Linked DNA regions of Homo sapiens: region 1 is linked to region 2. Evidence: fine-mapped expression QTL. A gene starts in region 2. The other region holds a variant in brackets. All regions are shown on one strand. Distances are from middle to middle. Region 1 has its middle 6.0 kb from the start of SLC2A12. Region 2 holds the start of TBPL1 (TATA-box binding protein like 1).

Evidence for each region.
Region 1: its variant is fine-mapped to the expression of TBPL1 in left ventricle (GTEx, PIP above 0.99).

What each region holds. Positions count from the first base shown.
Region 1 is chr6:134,057,156-134,060,067 of GRCh38, forward strand. No RefSeq gene overlaps it. Among named protein-coding and RNA genes, the nearest start is that of SLC2A12, 6.0 kb to the left of the region's middle. The variant A/T (reference allele first, on the strand shown) is at 1,576.
Region 2 is chr6:133,952,013-133,954,924 of GRCh38, forward strand. It overlaps TBPL1 (TATA-box binding protein like 1), which reads left to right and starts at 1,212. Exons shown (of 7, transcript NM_004865.4): 1 at 1,212-1,413. LOC128092253 (umcharacterized LOC128092253) reads left to right here and starts at 1,292. Exons shown (of 2, transcript NM_001414965.1): 1 at 1,292-1,413. The coding sequence starts at 1,292. RefSeq lists a silencer at 210-319.

The DNA.
Region 1 (2,912 bases), 110 kb after region 2:
CTATTAGTTTGGCCCATGTCTGTCTTTGTACTGCCCAGCTACGTGGAATGAGCACTGTTCTTCCTTTGATTAGCTATTTTTCCAAATAAAGTATTTTTAACTTAAAAATCTCTCTCAGTCCGATTGCCATGACCCTTGGATGGAGGGCATTAACAAAAAGCTGTTCAATGATTAAACCTTTCCTTGAGATTAACCTGCCTTTGATACCATGAAGTCAGAAAAAGTTGCTTGATCATACATGACAACAAGCAGTAGTTATTGGGTTGGGAACTCTGGTCTGCTTTCATTACATGTCCCTTGTTTGCCAGACAATAAGGAGGGCACTGCACAGAAAATGACTACTTTCCAAGTTTAAATAATCTGAATAACTCAGGGAAAATCTGGAGCAGAAAGCTTACTGAAATGCGAAACCTTGTGCTCAGCTTCTGAAGATGAACTCATTATATTTCAGCTCAGGTGGACATGTTAGAGCTTGTCACGGGCTTTTATTTTCTTCTAGGCTGCCCAGGATCAGAAGATCCTTCCTGTGTTGGGAATCCCCCTCTGCAAGGAAGAACCTGTCTCCTAAACAGAAGCTGGAAAGGCCTGATACTCCCTTTTCTCTTAGGACCAGGCTCTGCCAAGCAGTTCATGCACCCTGGATTTTGCATCAGAAGCTGTAGCACAAAGTAGCAGGATCTACAGGCCCCACCTTCCAGTGAGGATGGTGGCAGTGGCTCTGGCCAAAATATTTAATGTCAGAGTTGCTAGATATACACTGTTAGGTATGTGCTCAGGGGTGGCTAGATTAGCTCAAAGCAGGATTTGGGGAGTTATTCTTGACTACAGTTTCCAAGTTGGAGTTGGTTTCTGTTGCTTTAAACCAAGAACTAGGAATGACACCAGACTCAACTAGATAAGTCCTTTTTCATGTGTGCAGAAGCAGATTAATCAGGAAGCTAATGAAGTTTAAGCTGCAGGGCCCCTCACCCACACCAGCCCTTCCAAGACCCTGGGAGGCACCCAGCAATGCATTTATATAATGATATGTTTTGTAAAATTTGCTAAAATGAAATAACTGCAATCAGTTAAGACCACTAATGCTTTGCACCTGGCCAGCAACATCTTGTTTCCTTTGTGTCATGTGACATAAGGGTGGCCATGGAATATTTGGGATCTGACTTAAGATCAGTGAAGTTAGAAAAAAAATTTTTTTTTGTATTTTTTTTTTTAGACAGAGTCTCACTCTGTCACTCAGGCTGGAGTGCAGTGGCACAATCTTGGCTCACTGCAACCTCTGCCTCCCGGGTTCAAGTGGTTCTCCTCCCTCAGCCTCCTGAGTAGCTGAGATTACAGGTGCACACCACCATGCCCAGCTAATTTTTTTTTTTTTTTGTATTTTTAGTAGAGATGAGGTTTCACCATGTTGGCCAGGCCATTCTCAAACTCCTGACCTCAAGTGATCCACCTGCCTCGGCCTCCCAAAGTGCTGGAATTACAAGCGTGAGCCACTGTACTGGGCCTGGTTTTGGTTTCTCATGGATAGTTCACAAGCACTTAACTAATATAGAGTTAAGCCCTCACTAGCTCTCTTGG[A/T]ATAGAAAAGACTTCCAGGAATTCTCTTGCTCCTCACTATGCCATCTCATGCCGTGCATATCCCACATTATCACTCACGTGGCACAAAGATGGAAAAGCACAGGGCTAGAGGCTATCTCTCAGTGTGAACTTGTCCTACAGCTCCCAGGGCCATGGCAGAGGGCCATGCTAGAGGACAGACTGGGTTCTTTTATTTTCTTTATATAGAAAGTAATGTCACAAAAAAATTGTGTTACAAAAAAAAGATCAAAATGTGTGCAATCAAAAAATGAAGGGAAAAAAGTATTATGGAAGTGTATCAGGTAATTCCTGGATTATGCAATTTTTGTAATGCTTGGCAGCTTTTTATCATTTGTAATTTACTGCCAGGCATGATAGCTCATGCCTGTAATCCCAGCACTTTGGGAGACCAAGACGGACAGATCGTTTGAGCCCAGGAGTTTGAAACCAGCCTGGACAATATGGTGAAACTCTTTCTCTACAAAAAATACAAAAATTAGCTAGGCATGGTGGCACATGTCTGTAGTCCCAGCTGCTTGGGAGGCTGAGGTAGGATTGCCTGAGCCTGGGAGGCAGAGTTTTCAGTGAGCTGAGCTCATGCCACTGAGCTGAGATCACACCACTGTACCTCAGCCTGGGTGGCAGAGCTAGATAGACCCTGTCTAAATTTTTTAAAAATTGTAATTTATCAAAATAAATATTCACCTTTTTTTTTTTTTTTTTTTGAGACAGAGTCTCACTCTGTCGCCCAGGCTGGAGTGCAGTGGTGTAATCTTGGCTTACTGCCAGCTCCCAGGTTCACGCCATTTTCCTGCCTCAGCCTCCCAAGTAGCTGGGACTGCAGTCACCCGCCACCATGCCCGGCCAAATTTTTGTATTTTTAGTAGAGACAGGGTTTCACCATGTTAGCCAGGATGGTCTCGATCTCCTGACCTCGTGATCCGCCCGCCTCGGCCTCCCAAAAAGCTGGGATTACAGGTGTGAGCCACTGCACCTGGCCTGTATTCTTATTTTTTAAAACAGAGCCCCCAAATTTTATAAACATCAGGCCCCACAAAACTTGGTTCTGCCCCTATGAATATGTTGGAGAAGTATAGTTCTTTCCAGATGACCATGTTTACTAAAAACCTTGTACCTCCATTCAGTCCTCCTCATCCCCATTACCACCCTCTAAATCCGGGCCACCTTATAATCTCCCACGGGAAGAGCTGCAATAGCCTCTAACAGGTCTTCCTGTGGGCATTCTTGCTTTCCTAAGCCCATTCTCCACAGTGGTGCCAAGATTTTTTCTAAAATCTAAATACTTAAATGGCTTTCAGTTGTTTTAAACTTTTCTC
Region 2 (2,912 bases):
CAGGGCTGCCATTGACCTCAACTAACGCCAGGGGCTTCTGACTGCAGCCGAGCTCTGGTGGAAAGGCCGATGCCGGCCTGAGAGTGGGAAACGTGGGGCCGGGAGCCGGGGGCTTCCGCGCGGCGTGGCGTGGCGTGGCGTGGCGTGGCGCCCTCAGGGCCGTTACGCGATTTTCGCTCCCGCGGGCAGCGCCTCTCAGGCCACTCCCGAGGGACCCCGAGGACGCACTCGGGCCCCAGGGCGACGGTTCAAACGGGCCATTGTGCGCCCCCGGGGTCCCCCGGCCCCTGCAGGGCTACTTGGGCGCAGAGCCGCGGAGGGTCTCCGTTCCTAGAGGTCCTCCTATCCCGGGCTGCCTGAGTCCTCGCCAGCATCCGCCCTCTCCCACTCCCATCCTTCCTGGATCCGCCTCTCGGTTCCCGAGGGACAGTCCCGACCGCAAACCCACGTAGAGTAAGGAATGTGGGACAGGCGACAGAAGTGGCATACGGTCCTGCGTTATCCCTCCGTCTCGCCACACCTTGTGTCTCCATCTCTCCCCACTTCCTTCCCTCCGTCTGTCATCTGTCATCCCCGGTCGCTCTAAGACCAGGATTCCAATTCGCCTAGTGAGGAATCTCACTAGGGGAATTTATCGCGACATCATAAATTAACGGGTTCATTTTGACTGAAAAAGCGAAGGACTTTTTTCAGGCAGAAAACAAGTCTCGTCTGGACGGTAAGGACTAGCTTTAGCAATTATATAATGGGGGGTGGGGAGGACCTTTTGTATAAATTTAATGAGCTGATGAGAAAGTTCTACGGTTTTGACAAAAAAGTCCACCTAAATATTCGACTGTATGCCAGAAATTACTACACGTTTAGATATCAACTAAAAATATACAAAGGATACACGGTGTTTTCAGAACCCTTTCAAGCGGTTCTTAAACAAAAAAGTCTAGTCCGATGCCCATTAGCGCCGCCCCCATCCCACCTCTTACCTCCCACCGAGCCCAGCGGGTGGGCAGGAGGGGCCTGATTTGGGGACCAGGAAGGAGGAAGGAAGGGTGGGGGCGGGGGACGGGGAAAGTGACGGGAGCAGTGAGAGCCGGAAATGAGTGGCTAGCGAGGCACCCAGGAGCGCCCTGTCCGGCGGCGCTCTAGCCCTCGCGCACTGTCTCTATGCTCCCCAGCGTCTAGTCTATTTATTGTCGCGGGGAAGCTGCGGCCGCCTCGCACCCGGAACAACAAAGCAAGGAAGACGGAGTCCGAGCCTCGGGGGCTCCTAGCAACGGGCCGGGGCGGGAGTTCCATGGAGACTGGGGAGCGCGCCCGTCTCATCCTCATCCTTGTCCTCCAGCTTCTCCTTCGCATCCGACGCAACCGGCAGCAGCGCTGCCGCCGCGTCCTCAGCCACCGCTCCCTCTTCCCACGGTAACCCCCTAGGCGACCCTGGGCACAGGGAGCGCGGGCGGCTGAGCGGCCTGAGCACCGGGTGCGGGGCGTCTGGGCGCGGGGTGGGCATGTGCGGAGCCCGGGCCAGACTTGGGGTGGGATGTGTGGGGGCGGGCGACTGGAGGGCAGCCGCTGAGGTGGGGGAAACCGGTCCGGTGGCCGAGGGAGGGCTCAGTTCTGAAGAGGACCGGGCGATATTTGGGGATCTCTTTAGGGATAACGGGTTGGGGGTGGGGCGTCCGTACCTGGGAGCGTTACCGAGCCTGGTGTAGGATAAGAAAAGAAGGGTTATCTTTCGTTTAAGCCACCACTGGGAAAGACGGGGAAAAGAGATTCCTCATCTGTCTCGGAGCCATCACCCAGGGGAAGAGGGACCGTGCAAAGATGCTAGGGGTCCGTTGCTTCTCAGAAAACTTACAGCGGCTTCTCTAATAGCTCCCAAAAAGCGGCTTCGTCGGTTTCTGATTCTGGCAATGCCGGCAGCCTCGCTTTATTTTATTATTATTTTTGACCAAAATTAGGATTGATGGAGAAGGATCTAGAACTGAAGAAGAGAAAATGAATTGTGGGTAGGGCTAAGCAGGGATGAGAGTCGGGATAAGTGATAAAAATAGCCAATAAAAGCCCTAAAAGTAAATCTAATAGGGCATGAGGGCTTAAAAAGAAAATCTCTCCTGCCGAGATGTGCATCTGCAGGCTCTGTCAATGTGCTCATTGCAATAAGACTCAAACTGCAGTCAATCCACATCTGTGAGCTCTCTGACTGCATCTGTCACCTGCAGTTCCAAAGCGACACTGGCAGTAAGTGCATGAGCTTCTGTATTTAGGGTTTAGAACAGTGCCTTAAAACTGTGACTTAAGAAAAGGGAGCAGGTTTGCGTGTGTGTGTGTAAGCAATGTGGATTCTCTGGGAAAATATAAAAAGAGACATAAGAAGGTTCAGCCATCCTGGCATAATTTCGCAGTCTCTTTGAGAAAATGGCAGTTCCTTCCTATTGAGAAGTGACTGTTAGCACTATCTGGTTGAAAGGATTATTCACAGTTTGGTATGCCCAGTGAAATATCAGTTTATGTTACCTCTTTAGTCTTACATCACAAGCTGCTTAATGGTTTTATACTTTACAAAATCATTTTGGGTGAGTAAATGAGGTTTTCCTGTAGCACAATGAAAAGGCCACATATACATACAAAGTTCTTTATGTAAAGTTGAAGATTAAAGATGAAAATAAAATTGATAAATCATAGGAGCAATTAGGTCAACCACAGCTTCTGTTTGTTCCCCACCCCTTTTGTTAAACCTGACTTCTCCTAAGCAAAAAGGTGTCATCCTTTCCCCAGCCTCCTCTTTACGTACCCTCTGCCCTCAAAATCAGTATCAGAAACTCTAGTGACCTATTACTATGTGCCCTTGATTGGGCTGGCTTGTTCCTGAATGAGGGCTAGCCAGAATATAGCTTCAACTCAGGCGTTTTCATCTT